Regions from separate parts of the Homo sapiens genome. Here region 2 is linked to region 1. The links come from fine-mapping of genetic effects on gene expression. Tissue or cell type: whole blood. Region 1 holds a variant in brackets; the other region holds the start of a gene. All regions are shown on one strand. Distances are from middle to middle.

Region 1 (8,101 bases):
TCCCCTTCTGTCAGGTGAGTACCCCAGGGTCTCAATCCTGACCCTGGAGGCTCATGAGAGATGTCCCTCTATCCAGCCCTGCAGGCCCTGGGTGGGTCTCGCCAGGTCTCCCCACTCCTCCCACCACATCCCCAGGATGCCACGGCTTCCTGGGCTACGAGCAGTAACTGAAGAGGATTCAGGCTCAGGTGCTCCCAGACTCAGAAGCCTCCACCTAGAGCACGTCTTAGGGGATGTCTACCCTCCTCTAAGATGTGCGAGAGGCCCGGATGCAGGGTGGGGAAGGGGTACATGTGGGGTTACCCCCAAGAGGGCCCATCATCCACCATCCAGAGCAACATGGGGCGTTCCAAGGTCCCCCCAGGCCCTTCACCAGCTTGCAGCTTGCTCATATGCTTGTGGTAGTTGCTCTTTTGGGAGAGGCCTGGTCTCTCTGGTCACATGCAAGGTGACCTGTGGCAGGGTCACACAGAAGAGGCAAGTGAAAGCCCAAAGCCAGGACTTCTGGAGTGCCAAAGGGCAGTGCCAGTGTGGGCACTGGGGGAGGGGGCCACGCGGTGCCGAGAGCCCGCAGCTGCAGGGAGGCTCCCAGGCCTGGCTGCGCTGCAAACTCCTGCTGGCTCAGCTCTGCTCGGGGCTGACTCACCTTCCCTCTCCCACCTGTTCCCCTTTCACAGCCCTCCCACCTGCCTCCCTCCTCGTGCCGCTCCTCTGATCCCTCACTCCACTCCGGCTCCTGCGGCGCTGACGGAGCGGGGTGGGGGGAGTTGCTGCGTCTGGGGGTGTAAGAACCTTAGATGTCACGGAGCTTGGAATTGTGCCAACGGGCAGGCTGAAGGGGCCTTAAAGTGCTGCCAAGCCCTCCTCATGCCACACCAGCTTCCCTGCAGAGCCAGGGTAAGGAGACCCCCTCTGCCCTGCCCTGCCCTCTCTTCCCCACTTCGGTCACAGCCTCTTGGGGAGCAGGAGTGGTGGGCAGGATGGAGAGAATGAAGAGGGTATCATGCATGTGGAAGAAAAGGAGGAAGACAGGGAGGGAGGAAGAGGAAGAAAGGGAGGAAGACAAGGAAGGAGGAAGAGGAAGAAAGGGAGGAAGACAGGGAGGGGGGAAGAGGGCGGATCTAATGGGAGCAAAAAACCCCGCCCTCATCTGGCCACACCTGCCTGCCTGCCTGGAATTCCACGGTTCAGGCCTAATCCTTGTAGATTCACCATGGCTTCCTTCCCACCAGCTTCTGGAAGATTTATCTTCCTTATGAACTCAAATAGCTCACAGAAGAATAGAAAAGAACTTAGGAGGCATCCGACTCAGCTATTTCACCTCATTGCGTTCACCCCTGTCTTTGTTAGAGCCCATGGCTGCGATCAGATGACTGCTTCCTGCGTCTAGCTTTTCTCATTGCAGTTTTTTCCAGGTATTGACTTTTCTGGGTATTGATGGATTCTACATCTTTTCAATTTTTTTTTTTTTTTTTTTGAGATGGAGTCTCGCTGTGTTGCCCAGGCTGGAGTGCAATGGCGCAATCTCGGCTCACCACAACCTCTGCCTTCTGGGTTCAAGAGATTCTCCTGGCCAGGCGTGGTGGCTCACACCTGTAATCCCAGCACTTTGGGAGGCCAAGGTGGGCAGATCACCTGAGGTTGGGAGTTCGAGACCAGCCTGACCAACATGGAGAAACCCTGTCTCTACTAAAAATACAAAATTAGCCAGGCATGGTGGCACATGCCTGTAATCCCAGCTACTTGGGAGGCTGAGGCAGGAGAATCGCTTGAACCCGGGGGGGCAGAGGTTGAAGTGAGCCGAGATCATGCCATTGTACTCCAGCCTGGGCAACAAGAGTGAAACACCATCTCAAAAAAAAAAAAAAAAAAAAAATAGATTCTCCTGCCTCAGCCTCCCGAGTAGTTGGGATTACAGGTGTGCACCACCATGCCTGGATAATTTTTTGTATTTTTAGTAGAGACGGGGTTATGTTGGCGAGGCCAGTCTGGAACTCCTGACCTTGTGATCCGCCCTCAGCCTCCCAAAGTGCTGGGATTACAGATGTGAGCCACTGCGCCCGGCCTTCAATTTTTAATGACTATAGAATGTTCATCAAATTATAGAAGATCAAAAATTATACACCATTATGGATCATCAAGGCAACCCCTCATTTACAGATAGAGAAACTGAGACCTGGAGCAACGCAGTGATGAACATCTTTGTTCACTATTTTTTCTTCTTGTGCCTGTTTGCATAAGCTGAGTACAAGGTTCAAAAGCTAACAGAATTCTGGGCTCTGTCTGGCAGGCTGTAGAAATGCACCCTTCAGCCTTTGAATCTTCCTACAAGGACGATGTAGACCTGGGTCCCAGGAATTGGAAAGCGAAGGAGCTTTAAATCCAATATCCTGGCCAGGCACGGTGGCTCATGCCTATAATCCCAGCACTTTGGGAGGCCGAGGTGTGTGAATCACAAGGTCAGGAGTTCAAGACCAGCCTGGCCAACATGGCGAAACCCTTTCTCTACTGAAAATACAAAAATTAGCCGGGCGTGGTGGCGTGGGCTTGTAATCCCAGCTACTCAGGAGGCTGAGGCAGAGAATTGCTTGAACCCGGGAGGCAGAGGTTGCAAAGAACTGAGATCATGCCACTGCACTCCAGCCTGTGTGACAGAGTGAGATTCTGTCTCAAAAATAAATAAATAAATAACCAATATTCCCCTTCACAGCCACGAAAGGGGCTCCTAGTCAAGAGAGTGAATGAAGATGAGGAAGAATGGCAGGCAATGGGCACAATAATGAGACCAGGGCATGGGGCCGAGAGCACTGGCCTCTATGTGCCTATTCACAGAGAGGAAAGATCACGGGTATCAGAGCCAGAGGGTCCTAGATTTGAATCCTGCCTTTACCACTTACTAGCTGTGCAACTTTGGGCAAGTTAATTGATGTCTCTGAGCCTGTTTCCTTATCTGAAAGAGCCATTCATATCTATCTCACATGCTTGCTGTGTGCGTTAAATGAGATCCCATATGTGACCAGGCATGGCATGGTGTCAGGTACATTACTGGACCTAAATAAATACGAATTGCCTTCTGGAAGGGATTTGGATTGGCTTACAATATAAGACACACAATTTGAAAATGGACCTCTGAGCTACCTGGCAGCCATGGAAAAAGGGACACCTGATGGTTACTTTGCTCTCAGTCTATGAAAACTGGAAGGCTAGAGAGAGAGCTTGGGTTTGACCACTGTGTGATCTTGGGTGTTCTCTTCTCTTTCCTGGGCCTCATTTTCCCCATCTTCAAAGTTAGGAGCTAGGCCAGGTGCAGTGGCTCACGCCTGTAATCCCAGCACTTTGATCCCAAGGTGGGTGGATCACCTTAGGTCAGGAGCTCGAGACCAGCCTGATCAACATGGTAAAACCCCATCTCTACTAAAAATACAAAAATTAGCCAGGCATGGTGGTGAACACCTGCAGTCCCAGCTACTCAGGAGGTTGAGACACGAGAATCACTTGAACCCGGGAGGCGGAGGTTGCAGTGAGCTGAGATCATGCCACTGCACTCCAGCCTGGGCAACAGAGTGAGACTCGGTCTCAAAAAAAAAAAAAAAAGGAGCTGGGACCTGATGACCTCCAGGGTCCTGATGTGCCTGACCACCTAGGATTTTGTTCCTTTGGCCTTCAGAAGCTGGCAGGAGGTCTGGGGGAGAGGTGAGGACAGACAGAGATAGGCACTTAGCAAAATTGGCCAAGCCTAGCTTTGCCCCTCCCCCAATCACTGGCCACCCCTCACTCCACTTGCTGCCTGGAACCTGGCAGAACCTTCCCACACAGCCAGAAGCAAGTGCCTGGATCCTGGCCCTCAGCTCACACGCCGGCCCCACCCACCACAGATTCTAAAGGGCGTCTCAAGGTCACGCGATGAAAACCCGTTGAGCACCTTCTGTGAGTAAGGAAGGCCTGTTTTAGCAGAAACCGTTCAGCACTGAACCAAACCGACAAAGATGTAGCTGGGACCCCACCCTTCAGCCCTGTGCTGAGAGTCCTGAAGCCGGCCTCTGGCCTGGGCCCTGCCACCGACGCCAGGTGGGACCATGGGCAAACCCCTGCCGCTACCTGCTCAGGCTTGGGACAGCAGCCAGGGCTTCTTGGTCATGGTCGCTGGAGCCGTCCACTGCGGTTGCAGGGGCTTTGATAATGGGGCAAGTAAGCCAGAGCCCCTGCTGGGTGGAGGTTGCTTTCCGCTCTCACAGTGCCCACAGTGAGAAGGAGGCCAAGAAGAGACCTTTGGTTGTCCCCAGTTCAGAGGAAGAGAGGGGAGGGTGGGGGAATTAGCGACATCACACAGAGGAACAGCCACAGAGCCCTATCCAGAGCCAGGCTCCTGACCCTCCGCCTGTCACCAGGGTTACCTTCTGGGATGTGGCCCCTTGGGATGAGGGTCTGGAGGCCAGCACCTGCCCCTCTGGCCTCCTGGGGCTCCTGCTAAGCAGGGCAGAGGCTCAGCTCACTGTCCTCCCCTTGCTATCCCTGGAACGT[C/T]CCCCAGGCCTGTCTGAGCCCCTCCTGCCTCACCTCCCCCCGGGGCCTCTGTCTACACCTGGTGCAGGGCCTAAGGGTGAGTGCACACAGGCGGGAAGGGTTCAGGGAGAGGCGACAGAGCTGTGAGGATGGAAGGGATATTACACACTGATGTGGGAGGAGGTGACAGGGATAGGTTGTGACAGAGATGGGGAGAGAGAGGAGAAACACAGAAAGAGACACTGAGAGAGTCAGAGACAAAAAATGACAGAGAGACAAGGGCTGAGAGAGGGAGGCCTACTGAGGCCCAGGGGCCAAGAGTGAGCCCGAGGGAGGCAGAAGAGAACGCAAAACAGATCAAGCGGAGCTCCAGCAGAGGAGGCACCGGCTTGTGGGTCCGGAGACACCACACTGAGTCACAGGTGGACAGCAACAGGTGTCGGGGCACAGACGGAGGGGAAGTGACAGCCTCCCACCCACTACAAGGACTGGCATGTCTGTGGGGAAGCAGCTGGGTGCTCAGGGACCCCAGGATGGCAAAACCCTAGGCCCGCATGCAGCCAGGCAGAGAGGAAGGTGGGCATTAGAGAAAAGGAGCTAGGGCCAAAGAAGGGATGGCCCCGGGAGAAGGCCGGGGGCGCTGAGCGGTGCGGGAGCTGCACGGAAAAGCCAGAGGAGGCTAAGGAGATACAGAGACCAAGACAGCCCAGCAACTACAGCAGCGGCTGGAACCCAAATCGGGGAGATGAAGGCCAGGCACGGTGGCTCACACCTGTAATCCCAGCACTTTGGGAGGCCGAGGTGGGTGGATCACCTGAGGTCAGGAGTTTGAAACCAGCCTGGCCAACATGGTGAAACCCCGTCTGTACTAAAAATACAAAAAATTAGCCAGGTGTGGTGGCTATAATTCCAGCTACTTGGGAGGCTAAGGCAGAAGAATTGCTTGAACCTGGGAGGCAGAGGTTGCAGTGAGCCAAGATGGCACCACTGCACTCCAGCCTGGGCAACACAGTGAGACTCCATCTCAAAAAAAAAAAAAAAAAAAAAAAGGAGATGAAGAAAACCCAGAGGCTGGAGGGGACAGAGAAGCCCCGCTGCGTGCGTGTTGGGGGCAAAGGACAGGCCTGTTGCCAATGCCAGTTCCGCTTGGCAGCTGTGTGCCCCAAGCCTCCTATCTTCTTCTCTGCAGATGGGGACCCCGATGTCTGCCCTGTGGGCTGGAGCAGGCGGCGACTCTGTCCTGGCTGTGAGATCTCCTCCACCGCCCCTGACTCCTACCCTGTCAGGCCCACCCCCAGTCTCTTATCACCGCTGGAGGGGAATCTGAGCAATCCCCTACGGTAAGGGTCACAGTGAATGGTGCACTTTCCAGGTGATGGAGCCCCTTACTCTCTGATTTCCCATTTGACACCCCCCATCTGCCCTGTGAGGGGGGTTCTGTGATTCCCCCATTGTACAGATGAGGAGGCTCTGAGGGGTGACACGTCTTGCCCAAGGCTTTCTGGCCTTAAGGTTGAAGACTCTTCAGCCTCTGTACCCTGGCAGAGGTTGGCGGGGAGGCGAGTGAGGCTGAAGGGGGGTGCATGGCATGGGTGGGGCCGTACTGGGGGCTGGGCCAGGTGAGCAGGTGAGGACGACACACTAATGACCTGGGACCTTTTCCTGTAGGCAGTGGGGAGCTCTGGGCAGGCTGGGAGCAGAGGAGTGGGTGACGGAGGTGGCATTCAGGAGCTGCACGTGGCAGCTGAGTGGCCTGGAGCAGGGGCTGGGCAGGGATGGGAAGCCAGCAGGCCCGGGTGGGCAGAGTGGCAGCCTGGACGGGGCCAGCCTTCTCGCAGCCTCTGCCAGTCTCCAGGTGTCTGGGGCTGCTGTGGGACATTGAATGGGGCAGCAGGAATAGGGGGGCCACTTTTGGGGTTCCAAAACCAGTCAGGGAGGACCTGGGAAGCTGCCAGAGGCACCTCAGTGGGCAGGAGAGCGCGAGACAATGGAATGACTGGGAAATGGCAGGTGAGAGGAGGGAGGATATGGGCAATTGAGCATGGGGACGGCAAAGGTGGGGCCGTGGAGAGGATGGGCCAGGCTATTCACAGCCCAGTCACTGCAGGGAAGGACTGGGTGCGGAGGGGGCCGCAAATGGCCTTGCCACCTCCTGGCAGCCAAAGACCAGCTTGGGGTCAGGGGGGTAATGAAATCAGACTTCGACTTTGTGGCATCATGAAGGTGGCGGCAGAAGGGTGGGGCCTGGAGCCCGCAGCCTGGGTGAGGGGCCCAACCATGACCTCCCTCTCGGGTGGTCCTGGGCCCAGGGACTTCCTGGCCCTGGGCTTCAACTATAAAAAAGAGGCCATAACAACAGTCCCTCTCTCACAGGGGTGACAACCTGCAACTACATGGCATCGTGCACGTGGATCCACTGCAGCATGGAGCGGGGTCTGCATCAGGAAAGACACTCCTCCTCTTCCCCCGGCCGCAGGTGGGCCTCACTGAGAGACCTGGAGAATGGGTTTGCTGGGGAAGGCAGGCTTCGAAAGCCCCGGGTCATTGCAGCTGCCTCCCAGCCCAGCTCTCTGCCAGCCTCCCCGTGGGACATGTTATAAACATCAGAGTTGGATGGGCCTTGGCCAGGCACGGTGGCTCACTCACGCCTGTAATCCCAGCACTTTGGGCCACCGAGGCGGGTGAATCACCTTAGGTCAGGAGTTTGAGACCAGCCTGGCCAACATGGTGAAATCCTGTCTCTACTAAAAATACAAAAATTAGCTGGGCATGGTGGTGGGCGCCTGTAATCCCAGCTACTTGGGAGGCTGAGGCAAGAGAATCGCTTGAGCCTGGGAGGCAGAGGTTGCAGTGAGCCAAGATCGCGCTACTGCACTCCAGCCTGGGTGACAGAGCGAGCGGCCCCATCTCAAAAAAAAAAAAAAAAAGAAAAGTTGGATGGGTCTTTTGGGACTGTGGCCCGATCTCCTGGAAGTACGGATGGGGACACTGAGGCCCAGACAGGAAAGGGGTTTGCCTGCGTTTGGGCAGTAACTCAGACGCTCACCTGAGGCTGGAGCTTCCCAGGCCTGCCTTCTTGGCTTCAGGCCTGTCTGTGAGAAGGGGCGAGGCTGCAGCCTCCTGTGGGGCGGGACACAGGGCCTCACTGAGCCATCGCGCGTGCAGAGGGCCAGGCACCCGGCAGGTGGTCAGGAAACAGCTGCTCCTTCTGCCTGTGGAGGTCCCGCTCACGCCCACTGCTGGGGTTGGGATTACATCTCAGGCGTCATCCAGACCTGGCCAAATCCTGGCTCTGCCCCTTGCTACTGATTGACCTTGGAGAGGTGACTTGGCCTCTCTGAGCCTCATCTGTAACATGGGGAAGCCCCAGCTCCCACCTCACACCGCTGCCCTGAGGACGGAGGGAGATGATGTCTGTGGGCCAGGCCCCCAGCCCCTCAGCCCCTCAGCAGCCACGGTCCTCTCCCACTCCTTGGCCCGCACCCTCTGCCTCAGGCCGCACCCATAAGGCCCACCCCCTGCCACTCCGGCATAGGGGAGGGCCTGCCCTGGTAGAGGCTGAAGCAACTTCTCACTTCTGGCAGGGAAGTGACTCCAGTTC
Region 2 (8,101 bases), 100 kb after region 1:
CCTGCCTCTGCCTCCCAAAGTTCTGGGATTACAGGTGTGAGGCACCGCCTGTGGCCCAGCGCCAGGATTTTAAATTGGGAGACTGGGCCCAGACGTGGTGGCTCACACCTGTAATCCCAGCTTTTTGGGAGGCTGAGGCGGACGGATCACCTGAGGTCAGGAGTTTAAGACCAGCCTGGGTAACATGGTGACACCTCCATCTCTACTAAAAATACAAAAATTAGCCAGGTATGGTGGTGGACGCCTGTAATCCCAGCTACTCTGGAGGCTGAGGCAGGAGAATTGCTTGAACCCGGGAGGCGGAGGTTGCAGTGAGCCGAGATCGGGCCACTGCATTCCAGCCTGGGAGACAGAGCCAGACTCTGTCTCAAAAAATAAATAAATAAATAAACTGGGAGACCAGGAGGGCCTACCTCTGAAGGGGACTTGAGAAAGGTGAGAGGTGAGGGGGGTTGGTGCTCTGCGGGAAGAGCGCACCAGGCAGTGGAAACAGCCCCTGCCAAGGCCCTGAGGCCAGAGGTTCATTCCATGGGAGGCCAGTGAGGCTACAGGGCTGTGAGCAAGAAGAAAACTTACAGGAGCTGAGGTCAGGAGAGCCAGGTGCGGGGAGTGGAGGACAGATCCTGGAGGGCCGTTTTCAGGCCAGCCCTTGATGTTTAGTAAATCTATGAGTCCTTAGTCAAGACTGAGATTCCTGGGGCAGGTACTGAAATCTTTCTGGGTTTATCTGCAGCCATATCGTCATTATCTGGGAATTCCAGGGCTGTCCTTGGGATCCCAGCCCAGTGCTCCTGCGTGCCAAGTGATCTTGAAGGGTCTGAAATAGGGAGCAGGTAAAAAATGTCAGTTTGGGAACACAGTGGCTCACACTTGTAATCACAGCACTTTGGGAGGGCGAGGCAGAAGGGTCACTTGAGCCCAGGAGTTTCAGACCAGTCTGGGCAACACAGTAAGACCCCATCTCTATAAAAAATTTAAAAATTAGCTGGGTGTGGTGGTGCATGCCTGTAGTCCCAGCTACTTGGAAGGCTGAGGCAGGAGGATCGCTTGAGCCCAGGAATTTGAGGCTACAGCGAGGTATGATCCTGCCACTGCACTCCAGCCTGGGTGACAGAATGAGCCTCTAAAAAAAAGACAAAAGCCAGTTTGGAAAGGTGTTGTGAGAGCCACTATTCCTGAACCAATGCAGAGCAGCTGAAACCCAGGGTGGGCCCCTTGGGAGCTGGCAATTCACCCCACACCTATTCTAGCCTGATTTCATCTTCTTGTTGGCTTGCAGAGAAGGTAGCTAGGGGAACTTTGCCACACCCTTGGGTTTTTTGTTTTGTTTTGTTTTTTATTTATTTTTTTGAGACGGAGTCTCGCTCTGTCGCCCAAGCTAGAGTGCAATGGTACGATCTCGGCTCACTGCAACCTCCGCCTCCTGGGTTCAAGTGATTCTCCTGCCTCAGCCTCCCGAGTGGCTGGGATTACAGGTGCCCGCCATCGTGCCCAGCTAATTTTTTGTATTTTTAGTAGAAACGGGGTTTCACCGTGTTGGCCAGGCTGGTCTTGAACTCCTGACCTCAGGTGATCACCCGCCTTGGCCTCTGAAGTGCTGGGATTACAGGGGCGTGCCCGGCCCCACCGTTGGGTTTTAAAGTTAGGAGTTAAATCTGAGAGGAATCACTGTGAACCAAGTCGGAGAGAGAAGTCAGGCTGTGGGGCTGCTGGAACACGTAAGGTTTTGTTTTTCACTTTGGACCAGTCTCCCCTCCTCAGCTGGGTTTTGTGTCATGGTTTGCCTTCCCTTATAGCTTCACTGCAAAGCTCTTTGGAAGGGCCCACACACAGGTCTTCCAGGGATAGGAAGGACAAGGACTTGGGCCCACAACTCAGGCAGTGGACAACAGCATGTCCTTCCAATGGCAAGGCAGGGAGGCTCCCTAGCAGGCCTGGGGATGAGCCGGGCTCCTCAGCCTGGCTGGCCCAGGGAACTGAGCAGGATCTTAACTGGGGCAGGGGGTGGGGTGGGGGTGCTGGGGTGGGAGGTGTGGTTACAAGTCCTGAATGCAGAGGGGAGAACGTGAACGTGCTGCAGTCAGACCTGGCGATCTGGCTGGGTTAGGAAGGGGCAGGGGGTCTGTTCCAGCCAGGCCCAGTTTAAGGGAGAGGTTGATCTGTGCCCTTAGGCAAGCACTGGGAGGAGCCTGATTCCTTCTCTGAAAGAATACAGTGTAATCTGTTGTTGTTTGAGAGGATTAAATGAGATAACAAATAACCTCCTCTCCCAGGGCTGGTTGCCTTGAAAGTGCTGAAGAAGAGGAGGGCTTTGGGAAGCAGGGCCCAGGTTGGAAGGTTAGGGGTGGTAAGGACTGGAGGACACAGGGGCAGACTTCACCCCCTGCTCAATTGTGCCCAGGCCTCTCTGCCTGGGCTCATGTGAGGAAAGAAACAAAATGGGTGGCGGTGGGGTGGCGCTCAGGCCGGCTGAGAACTTGGGCCCAGAGTTACCGGATCTCCTAATGCCCCCAGAGAAACAGGGAATCTGGATCTGAAATATGAAATCTTCCAGTTTTAAAACTTTGGGGAGTGGCCAGGCATGGTGGCTCACGCCTATAATCCCAGCAGTTTGGGAGGCCGAGGCAGGCGGATCACTTGAGGTCAGGAGTTCCAGCCCAGCCTGGCCAACCCCGTCTCTACTAAAAATACTGTGTGGTCCTGGGCAAAAATTAGCCAGGTGTGGTGGTGCACATCTGTAATTCCAGCTATTCAGGAGGGAGGCTGAGGCTGGAGAATCACTTGAACCCAGGAGGCAGAGGTTGCAGTGAGCCGATATTGAGCCACTGCACTCCAGCCTGAGCCACACAGCGAGACTCTATCTCAAAACCAACAAAAACAAAAAGCAAAAAAAAAAAAAAAAACTTTGGGGATTAATTAACAAAACAACAACAGAAAGCACCGCGCAGGCCAAGTAAAGCCCACCACCTGGCTGGTGACCCCCTGCTCTGGCAAAGGTGTCACTGAAGGCAGGCCCTCCTGGGAGGAGGCTTCTCACTCTCCTGCTCTTGGAAATGGGCTCTAGATAGACCCAGTTTCCTGGTGATCGCTGGGAGAACAGAGCTGTCCTGTTGGGCTTTGTGGTCCTGGGCAAAGCCCTTCCCCTCTCTGGGCCAGTTTCCTGGCCGGCGAAAGGACTTAGTCTGTGGGGCTCCTGCCCGTTTGGACACGTGTGTGACTCAGTCCCTCAGCCTCGAGGAGGGAAGATACGGCTATTATAGAAGTGACTCCTCCCAGGAACTGTGCTTCCGGGATTGGACGCAGGGCCTCAGGCATTTTGCGTGTCCACAGTCACAACTGTGTGAATATAGGTGTGTCATAATTGGAAGCTTTGCATGGCTCAGTGTAAATATCATCACTTTAATGACTTTGTTCTGCAACCTTTCATCGCGGCTCTGCATGCCGGTAGAAGCTTTTATTAATTCTGTGACCTGGGGAGGACAGGGTCCTTCCTCCCATTTGCTGTTTAAGGAAACCCAAGCTCAGAGCTGGGAGGTGGCTTGGCTAAACGTGCACCACTCGGAGCCCAGACTCAAGTGTCGGTGCTTTGGTACTTGTGGCACCCCTCCTTCAACAGGGGAGAATGAGGTTGGGATCTGAGGGGTCCTCTCTGTGCCCATCACAGTTTGAGCTTCAGGGAAAAGAAGAAGAGGTCTTTGCCCTTCGTTTTTCCACGGGAGGAGAATGTATGAGCCCAGGCTACCTTTCTGGGCCTTGTGTCGACATCCCTAGCTGTCTCCTCAAATCTCTTGCCCTGAATCAACCTGGCCTGTGTTCTCTGCGGCACTCGGAACCTGGAGGCGGACTGAGCCTCCAGCAGTCTAACATCTTTTGCAGTGTCGTGAATAGCCGCCTGTTTTCGCAGGGGCCCAGTGCTCTGCCTGGAGAGGAGAGAGATCCTGGCAGGCGGGGAGAGGAGACTTTGGGTCTAGACCCTCCCCTCCCATCCCCTCACCTCCGCTTTTTGTGCGCCCTCCTCTTCCCTCTGTCCCCCCCGCACCCCGTCTTTTCCACCTGTGCCCTGGACTGCATTAGGGTGTCAGTATCTGTGTGCTCCCCCACCCCCACGCGTAAGCCCGCGCGCCTGCACTGAGGCTGGGGAACTGCGTCTCGCAGCTGCGGCCCCCAGCGCGGAGGGCGCGGGCCCTTTAAATCCTCCGGGGCGGCGGCGGCGGGCCGGGGATGACATCAGCGGGCGGGCCCGGGGCTCAATGGGAGCCGGCGGGCGCGCGCGGTGCGAGAGCGCGCGAGCCGGCGGCGGGGGCGGGCGGGCGGGCAGGAGGCCGGGAGGAGGGAGGCGGCGGCGGCGGCGGCGGCGGCGGCGAGAGCCCAGAGCCAGAGCCCGGCCGGGGCCGAGCGGAGCGCGGCGGCGGCGGCGGCGGCGGCGGCTGGGCCGGGAGAGGCTGGCGCGCCGGGCGGCTCCGCGAATCCTCCGGCATCCGCCCCGGCGGGCCGCCCCCGCCCGCGGCAGCCCCCCGAGCAGTGGCCCGGCATCGGCGCCTTCCCGGCGGGGTAAATATCGGGGGGCCGCGGGCCCGCGGAAGGGTGCAAACCTGGGGGGAATCGGGCTCCCTCAGCCTCTTTGTTTTTGCTGGAGAGGGAGGGAAGGGAGGGCAGACACACGCGCGTTCGCGCTGGGGTGTAGGGGGGGCAGCCCGGGCGCCGCCCGCTCGGCCCGGCGAGGACAAAGGCGCGGCTGGGGACGAGGAGGAGGGGGCCTGTTATTTTGCAGGCTCGCGGGGGAGGCCCCCCGGCCGGCCTGCCTCCGCTTCCCCCCGCTGGGCCCTCCGAGGCCCCGGCCGGCCAGGCGGCCACCCCGGCTGTGATTTGGGGACGCTGAGGGAGGGGGCTTGGGGTGCTGGGCGCCGGATACTGTTGATTCGGGCCCGCGTAGCGTTTCATCGGACAATCACCGGCGCCCCCTGCTCTCCCGGCCCCGGCGCCCGGACCTGGGGGTTCGCAAGGCTGCGCCCGCTCGTTGGATGACGGGCGTTTGGGGGTCCTAAGGTGAAGAGGTGTGTGGTCACCAGGCCACTGATTTGTTTTTCTTTGTGGAGAGAAAGAAAGGGGTGGGGGTTATTTGTCGGATCGGATTCTCCCATTTTTGTGTGAGAGATTGATGTCTTGCAAGTCTCTAAGGAACGCAAAACAGTGTCTGGGTGTCGTTAGAGGATTCCCAAGCTCTTGTTAATACCCTAACTCGAAGTGGGGTGAGCCCCCTCCCCAACTTTTCCCTTAGTTTTCTTGCATATTTTCTTCCTGGCATAGCCTCCTTCCTGGAGAAGGATTTGGAGAGAGGAGAAGGGGACACAAGTGTCTCAAGTTGCTTCCAAGCAATGCCTGTGTTTGGGTCTCCTTTGCCTTCGTTTCTATGATGTCCCTTCAATTTTTATTTTAATCGTCCGAGGGACAAGGGCCCCGGCTCAGGGGTAGGCGATGGTGTTCGGGGAGTAAGAAGCACTGCCCGTGTGCCATGCTGGTTGGTAGTTTGTCTAATTTTTTTAACCTGCTGAAACTCTTGAACCTTTATATCCACTTTTCCCCCCACTTTGTTTATCTCCCCCCCTCCCCCATGGGAGAAGCAGCAAAAGAACTGAAAAGCCTCTCCATTCCTGAATGAAGCTTTTCTGCTCTCCTCTGGGAGGCTTTTTGGGTATTGGTGCCGGGACAGTCTAGGCTCCCCCAGGGACCTTGGACCCCTGGGGTGTTGGGGAGCGACTGGGGGTCTGGGTGGCTGGCACATAGCAGTCAGGGGGTCCTGAAGGGCTTGCCCCTTCCCGCTCTCGTTCTCTGCAGACAGCCGGTGAGTGGGGAGAGACTGGGGGGTCATGTGCAGTATATTTATGTAAGACACCCAGACAGAGGGCACGGGTATTTATATAACCCGGCGTGGGTATTTATGTAATATAGGATGCGGGTATATTTATGTTCCTTTCCTAACCTGCGGGTTTCCTGGCTGCCATGTGTGGTCTCTGAATTGGTGTTGGCAGAAAGTGGACTGAGGTGTTGGGGGGGGGTTGCGTGCACACCCCCCCTTACCCCCCAACAGGGCTCACTGTGTGTGCCTGCTTTTCTTTCTTCCGTTGGAGTGTACACACTCGGGAAGCTGGACGTGTGTGTACGTGGGATGTGTGGCGTGTGGGTTTCCTGCAAACGTGGACTGTGTTCCCCTGGCAGCGTGGCACCTCAGCTGAGACAGGCCAAGCATATGGGCAGCGGCCCTTGATTGAGAGCCCAGAGTTTGGCCAGCTCTGGTGGAGGTCCCTGCCTCGTGGTTATTGGTGGAGGGCTGGTGAGCTCCTTGGGAGCCAGGTGCCGGGGTTCCCTGTCTCTCCTGGGATCTGCCCACTGTCCCTGGAATCCATCTCCCTCCCAGGCTGGCCTGGTTGTTGGGGGCAGCACTTGGCACGGGCAAGGGGCTGATCTTCTGTGCCAGCACAGCTGCTCTGCAGTCTTCCTGTTTTGCCCTGTTTGTGAGTGTGGGAGACCACCAGGTGGGACAGCCGGAGCCCTGTCCTCGGCGAGGCTGTACCATCTGCAGGGTGGTGTGGGACAGGTGGCATGGCCTCTGTGAGCCTGAGTACCCTGTCTGTGAAAGGAGTTCCCTCTTGCTAGTCCTTGATGCTGGTCCTCTTGTAAACACCCCTCCCCCTGTTTACTGCAGTCCCTGGTCCCTGTCCCCACGGCAGCACTGCCTCCAGGCCTTCAGTTTCCTCCTCTGCTGACCAGGAACAGGGTGTCCGGACTTTTGCCCCAGGCCAGAGCAGAGGGGTCCCTCCTCTGCCCCAGGCCAGAGCAGAGGGCTCCCCCCTGGCCCTGAGGAAGGAGAGAAGCTGCTCACATCAGAACTCCTCCTCCCACCCATCCGGGGCAGGCGGCTAAAACCCTGGCTCAGTCCCCTTTGTTGTTCTATGAGGGCCCTCTTAGGAGACCCTCCTAGTCTTAAAGGACGCCAGCTCCAAACAGTTTATCCAAGCGGCTATGGGCCTCCGTGTGAGGTCTTGGTGTCATGACGTAGAGATGGGGAGGTGGCTGGAAGGTGGATGGTCGAGGGCATTCTTTTCTGCCTTCCCCCCAGTAGGGGATGCGACTTTCTCCTGCAAGGCGTGCTGGGCACTGGCGAGGTCTGGCCTCTGGGCAGGGGCAGTACTTGGGAAGACCAGGCCAGGCTGTGGGAGCCTGGGGGGTAGGAGGTGTAAGAGGGCTGATGCCCGTTGTGATCCCTTGAGAAGCTTCTTTTGAGGGGCCCCTGAATGAGCATCCCCCAAAGACATGCTTGCTTGGCTGCTTCCTCTCTGGCCACACTGAAACCTGTCCTCAGCCTGCCTTAGCTGTTCCCCAGGTGTGTGGAGTGCAGGCTGTGGGCCACCTGACACCTGCAGAATGTGGTCTTCGAGAATGCAGGTTTTCGAGTTCCTGGTGGCTCTGCCTGGCCTTGGTGGACTGGACCCCTTTCCCGGCTCCCCACGTCGCTGACCCTCATGTTCCTGCTTCCTCTGCAGCAAGAGTGAGCCATGGAGCTACGTGTGGGGAACAAGTACCGCCTGGGACGGAAGATCGGGAGCGGGTCCTTCGGAGATATCTACCTGGGTAAGTGTTCCTAGCTCCAGCTGGAGCCCCTGGGGCCAGCCCATGGGACCAAGAGGAGGAAAGACCCCAGGATTTGGGGATCTGAAGTCAGAATGTGGCTCCAGGGGCATGATTTGCCCCAGGGCCATCCCAGATGGGGAAGGAAGCAGCAGGTTGCCGGGAGGCAGGCCAGGGGGCTCCTCTCGCAGGCCAGGCTGGGCACTGGAGGGTATTTTTAGCTCCAGTTTCTGCAGGAGTCATGCGGTTCTTTTGTGCCTCAGTGTCCCGGGTCAGCTGGGTCACCAGCTGGGTGTGGGAAAACCCAGGCGGGGTTCACATCCTCTCCCCTGCTTCCTGGGAGAAGGATATTGGTAGATAGAAGGGACTTGGGTTGCTGCTGGACCCCTAGCCAGGCCCCCCTCTCTATGTCCTGGCCTCCTGGAACCCAGCCCAGGCAGGCTTTGGGATGACGCAGGCTCCCCTGTAACCTCGG

What was found. PIP is the estimated chance that this variant, and not a neighbour inherited with it, causes the effect.
Region 2: it holds the start of CSNK1E, and the variant in region 1 is fine-mapped to the expression of CSNK1E in whole blood (INTERVAL, PIP above 0.99).

The regions. Positions count from the first base shown.
Region 1 is chr22:38,415,755-38,423,855 of GRCh38, reverse strand. It overlaps LOC105373030 (a long non-coding RNA gene), which reads left to right. Exons shown (of 5, transcript XR_938254.4): 1 at 1-14; 2 at 678-897; 3 at 5,690-5,840; 4 at 6,874-6,976. Among named protein-coding and RNA genes, the nearest start is that of TPTEP2-CSNK1E, 21 kb to the right of the region's middle. RefSeq lists an enhancer at 5,801-6,300. The variant C/T (reference allele first, on the strand shown) is at 4,522.
Region 2 is chr22:38,313,610-38,321,710 of GRCh38, reverse strand. CSNK1E (casein kinase 1 epsilon) reads left to right here and starts at 4,278. Exons shown (of 11, transcript NM_152221.3): 1 at 4,278-4,551; 2 at 7,542-7,629. The coding sequence starts at 7,554. TPTEP2-CSNK1E (TPTEP2-CSNK1E readthrough) reads left to right here. Exons shown (of 15, transcript NM_001289912.2): 6 at 7,542-7,629. The coding sequence starts at 7,554. RefSeq lists enhancers at 1,934-2,838, 6,640-6,689, 6,710-6,879, 6,950-7,009 and a silencer at 4,561-4,950.